Linked DNA regions of Homo sapiens: region 2 is linked to region 1. The links come from fine-mapping of genetic effects on gene expression. Tissue or cell type: pancreas. Region 1 holds a variant in brackets; the other region holds the start of a gene. All regions are shown on one strand. Distances are between the middles of the regions.

What was found. PIP is the estimated chance that this variant, and not a neighbour inherited with it, causes the effect.
Region 2: CHML starts here. The variant in region 1 is fine-mapped to the expression of CHML in pancreas (GTEx, PIP 0.96).

The regions. Positions count from the first base shown.
Region 1 is chr1:241,686,647-241,694,837 of GRCh38, reverse strand. It overlaps WDR64 (WD repeat domain 64), which reads right to left. Exons shown (of 28, transcript NM_001367482.1): 8 at 7,243-7,377. The region is part of intron 1 of LOC124904603 (a long non-coding RNA gene); the gene reads left to right. Among named protein-coding and RNA genes, the nearest start is that of WDR64, 38 kb to the right of the region's middle. The variant C/A (reference allele first, on the strand shown) is at 4,503.
Region 2 is chr1:241,636,526-241,644,716 of GRCh38, reverse strand. It overlaps CHML (CHM like Rab escort protein), which reads left to right and starts at 4,348. Exons shown (of 2, transcript NM_001381853.1): 1 at 4,348-4,835. OPN3 (opsin 3) reads left to right here and starts at 4,348. Exons shown (of 4, transcript NM_014322.3): 1 at 4,348-4,835. The coding sequence starts at 4,463. RefSeq lists silencers at 4,019-4,598, 4,929-4,978 and enhancers at 4,081-4,650, 4,651-5,221.

The DNA of each region.
Region 1 (8,191 bases):
GCTATATATGACCTGTATAAGTTTCTGGTTGCTACATTAGTTGCTGTAATCACCCTGGTAAATGTGCTGGAAATGTTTGCCCTGGTAAAATGGAGGCTATAGATTTGTGTATCTTGGAAATGAACATGTTTTCTCTGGATGTTGAAGTAGAATATGTCTTCTGTAGGACTACAAGGGCATATCAATCTGCATACGTTTTCACAGTGTTCCTTTATGGTTATGAATGTATCACGAATTGCCAGCATAGTATATAATCAAATTGGATATAAACTTGCATCTATTTCTTAATTAAATGTTTCAGAAATGCACTCCTTTAAAATGCAAGAGTATAATCACTAGCAGTTAATTATATTACAGAAACTAAATGAAACTATGCAATTAATTATGCCATATAAATGATATTTGTGGAATCCAATCTGGTGTCAAGAAATGAAACTGTTTTTAATGTGCTGTGAAGGGTTTTTAATTTGTCTTTCAGTGCAATATGTTATACAGCAAAATAAACATTTCGTCCTTTCTAAATGAGTGAAAAAAAAGTATCTTTCATGAAGTCTACAATTTTCAAGAAAATCACATCTTAGAAAAAGTCACATCTTAGAGATGTGATATGCTGTTCTTCCATTAAATTTCTAATTCTGTTATTTCATTGCTTAAATTTAAAACCTCAGAATTTAAAGGAATTCTAAGTCTGTATATGCAGAGGCTATTTTTTGTGACTCTTTTTTTTTTGTATGAATTTCATTTAAACAGCTCAAGAGCACCTAAAGGACATCATGCATTTTGTTAGGGGGACAGGCTACTCACCATTTTTCCTAGTACTACTTTTAGTTGTTCTCTAAATGTAAAGGTGGGGAAGGAGACCAAGTTCTATAGCTAACAATCAATCTCCTTTCGACTCACCCATTTTTTAGATTAAAAAGCTGAAATTCAGAAAAATTTATTAGGGTTTTGAAAATAAATTTTTAAGAATGGAATTAAATCACCAGAGAAGGGTTATATGTTTTAACCAATCTTTTTTTTAGATAGGTTTATGCTCATCCTTAAGGCTAAATCCGAATAATATGGCTGTTGTTGTTGCAACAAGTCAGATTCTTGTTTGTAGCTCAGCACATTTTTAAACTAGATTTTATTTTTCAGAACAGTTTTAGATTCACAGCAGAACTGAGGGGAAGGCACAGAGATTTCCCACATACTCCCTGTCCCCACACATGCACAGTCTCTCCCGAAATCAAAATCCCACACCACAGTGCTACATTGGTTATAATAATGGACACAAGATTATAAACCAAAGTCCATAGTTTACATTAGGGTTCACAATTGGTGTTGTACACTCCATAGGTTTTGATACATGTGTAATGACATTATCCCCCATTACAGTATCATACAAAGTAGTTTCAGTGCCCTAAAATTCTCTATGCTCCCTCCCTCCCCTCAAAGCCCTGGAAACCACTGATCTTTTTACTGTCTCCACAGTTTTACATTTTCCAGAATGTCGTATAATTGGAATCATACAGTATGTAGCCTTTTCAGTTTGGCTTCTTTAACTTAGTAATATGCATTTAAGGGTCCTCCATGTCTTTTTATGGCTTGATAGCTCATTTCCTTTTAGCACTGACTAATATTCCATCATCTGGATTACCAGAGTCTGTGTATCCATTCAGCTACTGAAGATTTCTTTGTTGCCCCCAAGTTTTGGCAATAATGAATAAAGCTGCTATGAACATCCATGTACAGATTTTTGTGTGAATATACGTTTTCAACTTCTTTGGGTAAATACCAAGTAGTATGACTGCTGGATCATGTAGTAAGGGTATGTTTCATTTTCTTAAGAAACGGTCAAGCGGAATTCTAAAGTCACTGCACCATTTTGCATTCCCATCAGCAATGAATGAGAGTCCCTTTTGCTCCACACCCCACCAGCATTTGGTGGTGTTAGTGTTCTGGATTTTGACCACTCTAATATGTATGTACTGGTATCTTATTTTAATTTACATTTCCTTCATGACTTAAAGTGTTTTGCATCCTTTCTTATGCTTATTTCCCATCTGTGTATCTTAGTATTTATTCAGATCTTTTGTTTATTTTTCAATTGGGTTGTTGGTTTACTTATTATAAAGTTGAAATAATTTTTTGTATATTTTGGATAACAGTCCTTTATCAGATATGTCTTTTGCAAATACTTCCTTCCAGTCTGTGTCTTGTCTTCTCATTCTCTTGGCAGAGTCTTTTGCAGAGCAGAAGGTTTCAATTTTAATGAAGTACAGCTCATCAATTATTTCTTTGTTCTAGAACCATTTGTTAAAAAGAATATCTTGCTCCATTGTATTCCCTTTGCTCCTTTGTCAAAGATCTGTTGACTATATTTATGTGGGTCTATTTCTGCTTTGTTGATCTATTTTTTCCATTGTTTTACAATACCGCACTATCTTTATTACTATAGCTTTATGTCTTGACTTGTCAGTCCTATGATTTGTTTCTTCCTCTTCATTATTGTGATGAATACTCAAGACCTTTTGCTTTTCCATATAAATGTTAAAATGAACTTGTCAAGATTCACAAAATAACTTCCTGAATTTTGGGTGAGATCGCATTGACTCTACATATCAAGTTGGGAAAAACTGGTATCTTGACAATAGTGAGTCTTCTATTCATGAACGTGGAATATCTCTTCATTTAATTCCTTGATTTCTTTAATTGGAGTTTTGTGGTTGTCCTCATTTGGATCTTGCATATTTTGTTAGACTTATACCTAAGTATTTCATTCTCAAATGCGAATGTAGATGGCATTGTGTTTCTTTTTTTTTTTTTTATTTTTTTATTTTTTTGAGATGGAGTCTTGCTCTGTTGCCCAGGCTGGAATGCAATGGCACAATCTCGGCTTACGGCAACCTCTGCCTCCTGGGTTCAAGCAATTCTCCCACCTCAGTCTCCCAAGTAGCTGAGATTATAGGCACCCACCATCATGCCTGGCTAATTTCTGTATTTTTGTAGAGACAGGGTTTCACCATGTTGGCCAGGCTGGTCTTGAACTCCTGAGCACAGGTGATCTGCCCGCCTTGGCCCCCCAAAGTGCTGGGATTACAGGCATGAGCCACTGTGCCCAGCCTATGTTTTTAATTTAAAATGCCACTTGTTAATTGTTAGGATATAGGAAAGTTATTGACTTGTATATAATAACCTTGTATTGTGCAAACATGCTATACCTGATCTTAGTGGGAAAACTGTCCAGTACTATAGATGATGTTAACTGGAGGTTTTTTGTAGATGTTTTTTACAAGTTGATGATGTTCCCTCTATTCCTACTTTGCTAAGTGTTTTTATAGTAACTCCTGTTTTCTTTTGATAAGTGTTAGCATGGTATATCTTACCCTATCCCTGTACTTTTAATCTATATGTGCCATTATATTTAAAGTGGGTTTCTTATAGACAACATAGAGTTAGGTCTTGTTTTGTGATCACTCTGACAATCTCTGTCTCTTAACTACTGTATTTAGACCATTGACTTTTAAAGTAATTATTGACATAGTTGGATTAATATCTACTATATTTGTTATTGTTTTCTATTAATTGCTGCTTTTCTTTGTTTCTATTTTTGTCTTTTACTCTTTTTCTGCCTTTTGTGTTTTAAAATAAACACTTTACATGATTTCATTTTCTCTATTTTCTTAGAATATAAGTTACACATTTTTTAAAAAACAATTTTTCGTGGTTGACCTATCATTTGCAATATACATTTACAACTAATCCAAGTCCACTTTCAAGTAACACTGTACTACACAGGCAGTACAAGTATATTAAAATAAACAAAAATCCTAATTCCTTCCATTATTTGTATTATTGCTGTCATTTATTTTGCTTACACATAGCAAATATACCATATATACATACATATATGTTTATATGTGTATATATTGTGTATATAATTGAATACATTGCTGTCATTATTATTTGAACAAATTATCTGTTAGAAAAGTTAAGAATAACAAAAATAACAATTTTTATTTTACCTTTACTTTTTCTTCCTCTGATGCTGTTCTTTTCTTTATATAGATGCAAGTTTCTGACTTACGGCTTTTCTTTCTCTCTGAAGAACTTCTTTTACCCTTTCTTGAAAAGCAGGTATACTGATAGCATATTTCCTCAATTTCTGTTTGTCCGAGAAAGTTTTATTTCTCCTTCACTTTTAAAGGCTAATTTCACGGTATACAGAATTCTAGGCTGGTAGGTCTTCTAACACTTTAAATATTTCACTCAACTGTTCTTGCTTATGATTTCTGAGGAAAAATCACAAGTAATTCTTGTCTTTGCTTTTCTACAGATAAGTTGTTTTTTTCCCCTCTGGCTCATTTCAAGTTTTTGTTTTTTTTTTGACAGAGTCTCCCTCTGTCGCCCAGGGTGGAGTGCAGTGGTGTGATCTCGGCTCACTACAACCTCCGCCTCCCAGGTTTAAGCAATTCTCCTGCCTCAGCCTCCTGAGTAGCTGGGATTACAGGTGTGCGCCA[C/A]CATGCCCAGCTAATTTTTGTATTTTTAGTAGAGACGGGGTTTTACCATGTTGGTCAGGCTGATCTCTAACTCCTGACCTTGTGATGCACCCACCTTGGCCTCCCAAAGTCCTGGGATTACAGGTGTGAGCCACTGCGCCCAGCCAGTTTTTTTCTTTATGTTTACTTTTCTGCTGTTTGAACATGATATGCCTAGGTATAGTTATTTTTTGGCATTTATCCTTCTTGGTGCTTTCTGATATTACTGGATCTGGGGTTTGGTGTCTCATTTTAATTTGTGGACATTCTTAGTCATTACTTCAAATGTACCTTTTCTTCCTTTCTCCCTTTCTTCTTCTGGTGTTCTCATCACACATATGTTACACTTTTCACAGTTGCCCACAGTTTTTGGATATCCTATGGTTTTTTTTGTTTTGTTTTGTTTTTTCAGTTTTTTTCCTCTTTGCTTTCTGTTTTTGAATCTTCTATAAATTCTTTCCTCAGCTACGTCCGGTATACTAATGAGCCCATCAAAGGCGTTACTCATTTCTATCAGTGTTTTTGATCTTTAGAACTTTTTATTCTTAGAATTTTCATCTCTCTGTTTACAATGCCCGTCTGTTCTTGTCTGCTGCCTGCTTTATCCGAGCCCTTAGCCTGTTAATTGTAGTTGTCTTACATTCCCATTCTGATAATTCCAACCTCCTTGCCATGTCTGCATCTGATTCTGATGCTTGTTCTGTCTCTTGGAGTTGTAGTTTTTGCCTCATTAATTTTGATGCTCTGTTGTTAGGTGCATCTGCATTAAGGATTGTCAGAGCATCTTTAAGAATTGACCCCTTTATCATTATGTAATGCCCTTCTTTATCCCTGACAATTTTCCTTGCACTGATATCTGTTCTATATAAAACTAGCATAGCTTCTTCTGCTTTCTTTTGATAAGTTTTAGCATAGTATATCTTTCTGCATCTTTTTATTTTTAGCCTATATGTGTCTTTATATTTAAAGTGTGTTTCTCATAGACAGCATATAGTTGGGTCTTGTTTTTTTGATCACTCTGACAATCTGTTTTGTGCCTTTTAGTATGCCTTGTAATTTTTTTCTTGATAGCTGGACATGATTTACTGGGTAAAGGGAACTGCTATAAATAGGCCATTAGTAACATGTCAGTAAGCTGTGGGGGAAGGTGAATCCTGTGAGTAAGTCTCCTTCTTTTGATGAGCCTGTGTGTCTGGATTGCGAATTTCACAAGTGCTTGTCAGTCTTCCTCACCCTCCCTCTTAGGTGCGACCAGAGGTTAGAGTGGATGTTTTCCTTCCCTCTGTGAGTTATTCCCTGACAAAGTTCCAATAGCTTAGACTCTGATAACATAGTTTCTCTTGAGGGCATACCTTGGAAAGAACAACATGTTCTGGCACGTTTCAAAATGGTGCCTTTTCCTTCCCCTCCGCCAGAAGTAAGAGAGAATTTTTCACTGATACTCACTTTAAGAATCTGTTGAACTCCTGGAAGTAAAACTCACAAAAGCATAGGGGCCCCTATGACTGGGCACCCCTGGAATTTTTAACTCTAAAATTGTCCATGCTGAGCACTTGTCCATTACAATTTAGGTTTTCCTGCCCTATACTGGTTATTCAGGGGGTTCCTGCCCATGAATTTCTGCTCCAGTAAGTTGTGATTCCCAGTGTTTGCCCCTCTGTCTCTCCAATGTGGGGGCAACAAAACTGCCTTGTGACCTTACTTCTCTGATGGATCTAAGAAAAATTATTTATTTTTTAGTTTGTTACATTTTTACTTGTTAGGATGGAATGGCAACTTCCAAGCTCTTTACATGCCAGACTGGAAGGCAGCCAGGAGTCTCGATGAGCTTTTCTGAGACATCTTTATTAGGGTATGTAATACCCCAATAGGTATCATAACATTTGCATATCATAAAATTCACTCATTGTAAGCGTACAACTCAATAATTTTTAGTAAATTTAGAGAATTGTGTAACAATCAACAGTCGCCACAATAAGTTTAGAACATTTTCATCACCCAAGAAAGTCCCCTTGTGCCCATGTGGGATCCCTGCTTCTACCACCAGTCCTAGGCAACCACTGATGTACTTTCTGTGTCTATAAATGTGCCCTTTTTTTGATATTACATATAGATGGAATCATACCATATGCAGTCTTTTTGTCTGGCGTCTGTTATTCAGCTTAATGTTTTTGATATTCATTCATGTTGTAGCATACATCTCAATGCAATTTTAAAACCCCAAATTAAGATACAATATCGGTTTTCTAGTTATTAATACATATTTAACCAGATTGAAAATAAGACAATATTCAAATGAACCTTTCTATGAGGATGCCAACTTGTATATTACACATGAAACATGATTACTGGTCTACAGATCATACTCACAAGCTCTTGGTTAGCCAACTGACCTGTAAGAATGATTTTAAAATTATAAAATTTTACCAACAGAACTATATTTTGAAATATGTTATAGATGCACTCGTATTGATTAATTTCAGTAGATGATAGAAATAAACAACAAATGGGCACAGTTGATGTTAGGACACGTCATGTTCAAATTTGCATAAGTGGCTTCAATTTCTTCCTGAGAAATCTAATTAACCTTCCCAAACAAATGGAATAGTTAATGTCCGATTTTTTTAAAGCCAGTTTGAAAGTTTCAAAGCTGTCATGGTTTTATCATTGTAAAAAGCTTGAAATTCACAGACTGTTCATGTATATAAATTACTATACTTACAAATTATCCTCGAGTCTCTTCAAGGATTCCAAAACTAATGAATGATTACTGTCTAAGGAGCAGGATCCAAAACAATTTAGGGCTGAAATATATCTAATTTTCATAACCCAGTCATTATGTAGCTTCCTTTTAACACTGGGGATTAAGAAAAGGCAGGGGAGATTTATGTTAGACACACAAACGTATAATATGTTTCTATTCAGCAATTTACTTTGACTGTAACTGAATTGTACTAAACCCAAATGTAGAATACAGCCCAATGCATTATAACACCTTTTTTTTTTTTTTTTTAGATGGAGTCTTGCTCTCTCGCCTAGGCTGGAGTGTGCAGTGGTGCGATCTCGGCTCACTGCAACCTCTGCCTCCTGGGTTCAAGCAATTCTCTTGCCTCAGCCTCCCGAGTAACTGGGATTACAGGTGTGCACCTCCATGCCCAGCTAATTTTGTATTTTTAGTAGAGACGGGGTTTCATAATGTTGGCTAGGCTGGTCTCGAACTCCTGACCTCAGGTGATCTGCCTGCCTCGGCCTCCCAAAGTACTGGGGTTACAGGCATGAGCCATTGCACCTGGCCCACTTTTAACTGTTTATTTATAATCAAGCATACTTAAAATGGAAAAGTAACTTTAAAAGACTCTTCAAAATTTGAGCTGTGAATTCAGAATTAAAAGAACAATCTAGAAGAATCCCAATTCAATAATGGCACTATTGATTTTATTTTACTAGAAAATTTCTAATGATCCAAATGGAGCAGTATGCTTCATATTCTTTTATATCTTATTTGAATCAATCCATCTGAAAATATATTTTCCATTAGTACTTTTCAAACTGAAGTACTGGGCAATGTAAAATCTGAGATCACTGGTGAAGCTGAGTGGGGGATAGTGATAATATTCCTTGTCAGAGTGTTGGCCATCAGTTCACAAAACATTTGAATGTGGGGCTTAAGG
Region 2 (8,191 bases), 50 kb after region 1:
GCTATTTTGAATAATCCTATTATGAACATAAGTATACAAATACCTGTTTGAGTCCCTGCTTTCAATTCTTTTGTGTATATACCTAGGAATAGGATTGCTAGATCATATGGCAATTTTTTTTGTTTTGAGACAGGGTCTCACTCTCTTGCCCAGGGTGGAGCGCAGTGACACGATCACAGCTCACTGCAACCTCAAACTCCTGGGCTCAAGGGATCCTTCTGCCTCAGCCTCCTGAATAGTTGGGTGAGACTACAGGTATGTGCCACCACACCCAGCTAATTTTTTATTTTTTTCTGAAGAGATGGGGTCTTACTATGTTGCCCAGGCTGGTCATTGTACTCTTGGCCTCAAGTGATCATCCTGCTTAAGCTTCCCAAAGCACTGGGATTACAGGAATGAGCTCACAATAATTCTATGTTTAACTTTTTGTGGAACTACCAAATTGTCTTCCACAGGAGCCACACCATTTCACATTCCCATCAGCAGTACGACAGGGTTCTAATTTCTACACATCTCCACACAAAAACCAACACTTGTTTTTGTGTTTTGTTTTGTTTTTTGATGATAGCCCTTCTAGTAGGTGTGAAGTGGTATGTCATTGTGGCTTTGATTTGCATTTCCCTAATGACTAATCACAGTAAGTTTCCTTCCATGTGCTTTTAGGCCATTAGTATATTTTTGGAGTAATGTCTACTCAGATCCTTTGCCTATTTCTGAATTGGGTTGTGTGGAGTTTTTTGTTGTTGAGTTGTAGGGGGTCTTTATAATATTGATGCCTTATCAGATATATGACTTGCAAGTATTTCTCCCATTTGCTGTGCTGTCTTTTCACTCTTTTGATAGTGCCCTTTGATGCATAACAGTTTTTAATTTTGATAAAGTCCAATTTAGCTATTTTTCTCCTGTTGCCTGTGCTTTTGGTGTCATACCCAAGAAGTTTTCTTCTAAAAGTTTTATAGTTTTAGCTTTTACATATAGGTCTCCAATCAATTTTGAGTTAATTTTTATATATGATATAATGTAAGGCTCCAACTTCATTCATTTGCACATGGATATGCAGTTTTCCCAGCATCATTTGTTGAAAAGACTGTCCTTTCCTCCTTTCCCCATTGAATGGCCTTGGCATCCTTGTCAAAAATCAATGGACCATATATGTAAGAGTTTATATCTTGGCTCTCTATTCTATTCCATTGGTCTACATGTTTGTCCTTATGCTGTGTATTAGGCTGTTCTTGCACTGCTGTAAATACCTGAGACTGGGTAATTTATAAAGAAAAGCGATTTAATTGGCTCACAGTTCTGCAGGCTGTACAGGAAGCATGGTGTTGGCATCTACTCAGCTTCTGGGGAGGCCTCAGGGAGCTTTTACTCATGGTGGAAGGCAAAGTGAGAGCAGGCATCTCACATGGCGACAACCAGATAGGGAGAGAGAGAGAGAGAGAGTGGGATGGCGGAGTTGCCACACACTTTTAGATGACCAGAGCTCACTTATCACAAAGGGGATGGCCCAGGCCATTCATGAGGGATCCGCCCCCTATGACCAAAACACCTACCACTAGGACCCACCTCTAATATTGGGGATTATATTTCAACATGAGATTTGGGTGGGGACAAACATCCAAACTATATCATGCTGGTGTTTTTCATTTGTTTGTTTTTTGTTTTTTTTTTTAATAAAAGATTGTAGTGTTCTGCCATTATCCTGTCATTACATAATTCTAAAATTAAAAAAGAAACATATATCCTTATCATTGCCTGTTTCTGTCAAGCTCAATAAATGTCCTTAATGGTTCATAGTATTGTAAAATTACTGTGTCAAAAATGCTTAAGCATTTGTCAAAGGCCTCTTACTCCTCCTTTGCATTCACTGCTAGTAGGCATTGCCCTGGACTTTACTCTGATTGAGTAAAAGCCAAAGTCCTTTTATTGAAATGGCCAAGGTCCTGCATATTCTGGCCATTCACTGCACACCCACCTGACTGGCTGCATTTCCCGATTCTCATTCTTGCTTCCTTATTGTTCCTCCAACATACCAATACAGTACTCCTGCCCATAACCACCTTGTCTAAATAACAACCTTGACAGAGCAGGTGCATCACCATCATGGACAAGCACTGCCATTTTAAAGTTCCCCTTGATCAAAAACCACCTAAATCCAAACAGCATCAGCCTAATGGCTAAGGTCAGCATGACCATACACCACAAATGACATCTCCGACCAGAAACATTCCAACCCTAAGATAAACCCCTCCCTGACCAGAGACATGCGAGCCCCGAGATAACCTCCCCTCCGACAGAGACATTCCAACTTGGCAATAAACTTCTTCTCCAAACAGAAACATTCCACGCCTGTGATAAGCTCTCTCACTCTAAAATCCTTAAATACTCTTAGTCTGTAAGAGAGTGCTCCTGACCGAAATCGGCCAGAAGCCCCTCTTAGGTTTATTCTTCCAAATAACACTGTCTGACTGTTGAGCTGCTATTAGTGTTTCTTTCCTCTTTCTTTAACTCTTACAAACTCCTTGCCCCATCTCCCATAGCTCCTGGCTCAACCTCCTGAGTAGCTGGGACCACAGACATGTACCATCTTGCCTGGCTAATTTTCTATTTTTTGAAGAGTTAGGGGGCAGTTCTCACTTTGTTGCCCAGGCTGGTCTTGAACTCCTGGGCTTAAGAAATCCTACTGCCTCGGCCTCCCAAAGTGCTGGGGTTACAGGAATGAGCCACCACGCCTGACCCCTATTTCTTCATGGCATTTGTCAGTGGCTGACACCCTACGTATTTATCTAATTTTTGTTTGTTCTCCCAACACGACTGGAATGTGAGCTTTATAAGGGCAATGACTCAGCAATGAAGAATGAATAGGAAAAAATATAGCGAGTTCTTTATTCATTCATTCAAATTACTATTTATTGAGAACTTACTGTAGACTAGACACAGAAAACACTTTCGACATTAAACATATAGAACTTGTTAAATAGTTATGTTTTGTTCAGTGGTTGTACAAATCTAAAATTAACAATTAAAAGTGTGTGTGTGTTTTTTAAGGGGTGGGTGGGTAGGAAGTCTCACAGATGGCGAGTCCAGAGCAGAAGCCTTGAAGGAAAATCAAGGTGTCAAAGGCAGAGCACACTGCCCCTTAGCTATTGCTCAGTGCACCAGGGTGGAGAGCTGCTGCCAGCCTATTAGATCCTCTCTCCAGGGAATTCAGAATGTGGATTGATCCAAGCTAGTCATTCCCTACTGATCTTTCAAACAGAGGTGAGGCACGCCCGTATGGAGAGCAGTTTCTTTAGCTTGCACAAACCCTGTGTTCGTCACCAGTGTCCAGGACAGGCTGCAGGTGTGGCTGGGGACTGTGATCTTCTTGTAGGGCCTCCTTAGGGATTGTGCAACCACAAAGGCAGAAGCAGCTCTTGCAGAGTGTGATGACGTTCACAACCTATATTTGACTTGTACTATATTCTCATCACTACAGGAGAAGAGGCCCAATGGGAAATGTGTGCTGTTCTAAATATAGCACCTGCCTCCTATACCTGCTAGATTTAGGTTGAATCTTTCACTGCCTGTGAAGGACTTTAGCAGGCCTCAGTGACCGGAAAGATCTACCCACGCTTTCAAGCACAGGAAGGACGGTATTGGAAGGCCTTGGGGTCCAGCCCAGGGCTTAAAGTCAGTTCCATTGGAATGCCATTTTCAGAGAGTTTTCATCCCAGACTCTCCAAGGGTGGCAGGCTCTTGTATCAGCCCTGGGACATGTGTCCTCTAGCAGTCAGGTAGTTAGGCAGGCACCTGTCTATCAATTTGTTGTTTTTCTTCTCAGTTTTCCGGTAAGACTACCCCGAGCTCTTCAATGTTTTCTTTGCTTTTGTTTACATTGAGTGTATGACGCGGGATGGGCTTCGTAGGCTGGTTGTGGGTTATTACAGCTTCCCAGGAAGGGGAGAAACCCAATTCTTGCCAGCACGTGGTGGGCGCAGGCGCTCATAAATACTTAGGAATAAATGAATGTATAAGTGAGTGCATGAATGGGTGAGTGGACACGAAGCTTTCAAGGTGGGTGCAGGGAGGTGGGGGTGTGAAGAGCCATCGAGGCTACCCTGCGGCCCTGGCCCCCAGGCTATCCCGCGACGCGCGTCCACGCCGACCAGCGGAAGGTGCCCAGCCAGTGGGGGCGGGGCGAGCTAGCCGCGAGGACGCGCCCGCGGGGGGGCGGGGCTAAGAGGACGCGCCGGGAGCAGCGGAGCGACGAGGACAGGCCGCGGGGAGGGGCGGGGCCACGGGGGGTGCGCCGGGCGGAAGGGGCGGGAAGAGGGCGGGCCCGGCGCGCGGTAGCGCGGGCCCCTCAGTGCACAATGGCTAGAGCAGGCGGCGGAGCCCCAACCCCACCCAGTGCGGAGCGCGCCGCGAGCCCCGCCGCAAGCTGAGCGCCTCCGCCCGCCAGGCGCGCCGGCGCCGGGCCATGTACTCGGGGAACCGCAGCGGCGGCCACGGCTACTGGGACGGCGGCGGGGCCGCGGGCGCTGAGGGGCCGGCGCCGGCGGGGACACTGAGCCCCGCGCCCCTCTTCAGCCCCGGCACCTACGAGCGCCTGGCGCTGCTGCTGGGCTCCATTGGGCTGCTGGGCGTCGGCAACAACCTGCTGGTGCTCGTCCTCTACTACAAGTTCCAGCGGCTCCGCACTCCCACTCACCTCCTCCTGGTCAACATCAGCCTCAGCGACCTGCTGGTGTCCCTCTTCGGGGTCACCTTTACCTTCGTGTCCTGCCTGAGGAACGGCTGGGTGTGGGACACCGTGGGCTGCGTGTGGGACGGGTTTAGCGGCAGCCTCTTCGGTGAGTTGGACTGGGAGAAGGCAGCCTCCCCTCTGCAAACTTCCACTCCCCACCCCGCTGCCCGCTCCGTGCGTCCGCCCCCCAGCCCGCCCCGCACCGCTTCCCGCTCGGCCCCGCGCCCCCCGCCCTACACCGCCCCGCTCCCCGCTCGCCTCCTCAACGCTGCCCGACCCCAGCCGCATGGCGGGTGCCTTCCTCTTCCTCCGTCCCCTCCCGCCCCACGCTGTCCAGGACTCCATTCCTGTGGTCTCTCATCTGCCCCCCACGTTGACCCCAAACCCCGGCCCGCCTCCTTTCTTATTTGTTTTTACCTCCTAAGATCACTCAACAAGGCACGAAACCACGGCTTTTTACACTTTGAGGAAAGAGACGAGGGCCTGTAGAGTCAAGAGATTCAAGAAAAAAAGTGATTAACTCGTGAAAGTTGGAGGGAGTGATGAGATTAGATTCATGTACTACTATTTGTTTCCTAAAATGAGAGTAGAAAACCAAAATAACAATGTGTAAAAAAAAATTCTCATTAGTACTTGTAAACCTTTGAATGCTTTCTAGGGAATGAGACAGTTTCATTCAGGTCCTCAGAATGCAAATTGGCATGTGCCCTGTAAGCTGTTTTTACTATTTTCCGTCTTATAGATGGGTTCCAGCACACCAGAATCTTGGGTGAGATTACAAATGGCTCAGCCAATACCATCTCAGGTGAACAAATACTGTAATTAGCTCTGCAATCGGTAGATTTCATTAAAGTAGAACTTCATTGTTGAAGATGTATTTCGACAGTACTCTTATTATGGAAGATTTAAGTTTCACTGAGACATGATGTTTTGAAGGATGATCAACAACTCAGCAAATCATTGAAGGAAGCGTAGAAAGGAAATTATTTTTTTGTGTGCCTCAGGAATTTCATTTGTAGGGAGATTTGAAATAGAAATGTGTATTTCTCAAGGCTTAAAGTTCCTTTTTTAAATCCTGAAATCCATTGATACTTTATTGCTTTAATCTTGGTAGGTTTGGGAGAACAAAAATCTTTGTAGAATTATCAAAAATATTTTCTTATTCAGTAACCTCTATGCTATGACAAACCCAAATATTATATTTGTAATGATTCATTTTTTGGCGTTTTGAAGGAAATAAGAAAATAGATTTTATTTGATTGCTTCAGAGGTTATAATATTTTCCTCCCCGCCCCTCATAAGCTTTAATCTGATAATTTCATTTGAACAAACATTTGAAATTTAGGGAGGGGACTGCAAGTGTATGTAGGCTGTGGTATGGACGACTATGGGATTACACTCCTTATATTAATTGTAAAATACCTATCAGGCAGTTTCTTCGGCAATGCTAAGAAGGTTATTCAAGCCCAAGCCTAAAGTATCATCAGTAGTGTTCTCCAGGGTAGTCAACAGGTGTTTGTTCACAGACATCAAAGTTCTTTTTTCCTTGAAGTGCCTTTTCTGTGCTGGAAAATTCTGTTTTCGTGCCCGGGAGTTTGAACACAAGGGTGTACTGAGTTCTTTATAAGTGCTAGCTGTCATCCACCCTCTTCCTCACCTCTTTCCTCTGCTGATCCCACCCTCCTGTGTCTCCTGGTCACTTCTCCCTTCCTGTTTTTCTTCTTCACCATCCCTCCTAGGGTCCCAGCCCAGTGATTTTCTAAGTTCACTTAGATTTTTGCCTGAGGGCTGCCCTATTTTTCAGGGCATTTAGTGCTTTCAACCATGACTTTCTCCCTGTTTTTAATGTAGAGGTGGAAACCCTGAGATAAGAGATTCCGAGACTTAAGCCCTGGGGGGCAAGTTAGTAGTGAAGTTACTATAGAGTTTAAAAAGTTTTTAGCGAAGATGATTTCTTTGCCTGGAGTAAATTCCGGAGTTTGTGCTTCTAGATCCAGGTTAAGGATGAAGAAAAGGAGGGCACTTCCTGAGTTATCCCTGAGCAAGAACTACCTAACAGTGGAGTATTGAAGGGGAGGAAGTTAAAAATGAGGGAAGTAGCTTCTTGATGCAGAGGCTTTTGGAGAGGCTTGCCCTATCTGTTGGAAAGACCATTGGTCTGATGGCACAAGAGTGGATCCTGTTCCTTATCCTGCGACTCATGCATTGTGCGGGCTTTCTCAAGTCACTTAATCTCTCCAGCTATCAGTTCTCTCATCTCTATTATTGGGTAATTCAGCTTAATGCTCTGTAAGGCCATCCTACTTGCTTTGCATTTTGATGACCCCTTTGATATCTGTAGGTTAGAACGTGCCTGATCTTAGCGCTTATTGATTGTGTCTTCTGCTCCTACTCCTACCCTGAGCCCTGTCTTTCTAAGCCAAGAAGCAGCATGTACTATGGTTACACCTCTTCAGATACCATCATAGATTCAGTCTCCATCTTCACACCCTGCTGGAAGAAGCAGAATAAGTAATTCAGACATACTTATATTTATACTTGAGTGGGCCAGGCAACTGCTGCATTCTGTACTTAGTTCCTGGCTTCTTAGGGAATGCCAAAAATGAGTGGAATCCTTGATATTTTTGAGACAGAGGCTTTGACTAGACAGGACTGTTAGGATTGCCATTTTAGTTAAACTAAAGGTGTGTGCCCTATGCAATTTAATCTAAGTTCCAATTGAATGGCTTGTTTTTCCAGTATCCAGGATTATTAGTCATCTTGGGCTAGACAGGTACAGCTTGTACTGATTTATATTTCAGTAGGTTTAACAGTAGTGAAAACCAGAGCTCAAAACTGTGCAATGATGAATATTAGAAAGTTTAGCAGTATTGTTGCTTTAGCCTAAAGACTTTCAGGTGAGTATGCTCTTCAGCACCTTGGCCTTTCTACCTCTGGCCACACAGGGCATCACACAGATGTCTTCCGCACATGGAATGTAACCAGCATTATGCTCAAAGTTAACAGGAGAACCTTATTATTTTTTTTTTTTTAAACTTCCCCTTCAAAAATAAGAACAAACAGTGTTAGTCTTGGCAGAGGATGTTTAGATAGACCTTTTGCTTGGGATGCAGAGATTCAGGGTTGCAGAGACAGTGGCGAAATGCAAACATCACTGTATTCAAATGTTAGAAGTAGGTATTATTTATGTTAAGATATTTTAATATGAAATCAGAAGTTTTCCTTTTTTACTTACACTTACACACTTTTTTCCTTTATTACTTATATGCATGTGTACATTCATATAATATTTTTAATACATTTTCCTCCTCAGGGCTATTATGAGCCTAAATATTTTTAAATGGCCAGTTGTTTTACTGAATTAATCCTTTTGTAATAATCTGACTAGTAATTGAGTAGAAATAGTCTCATGTTGCTACCATGAGATCCTAAGGGTGGTTGTGGCATGGAAAGGTCTTATAT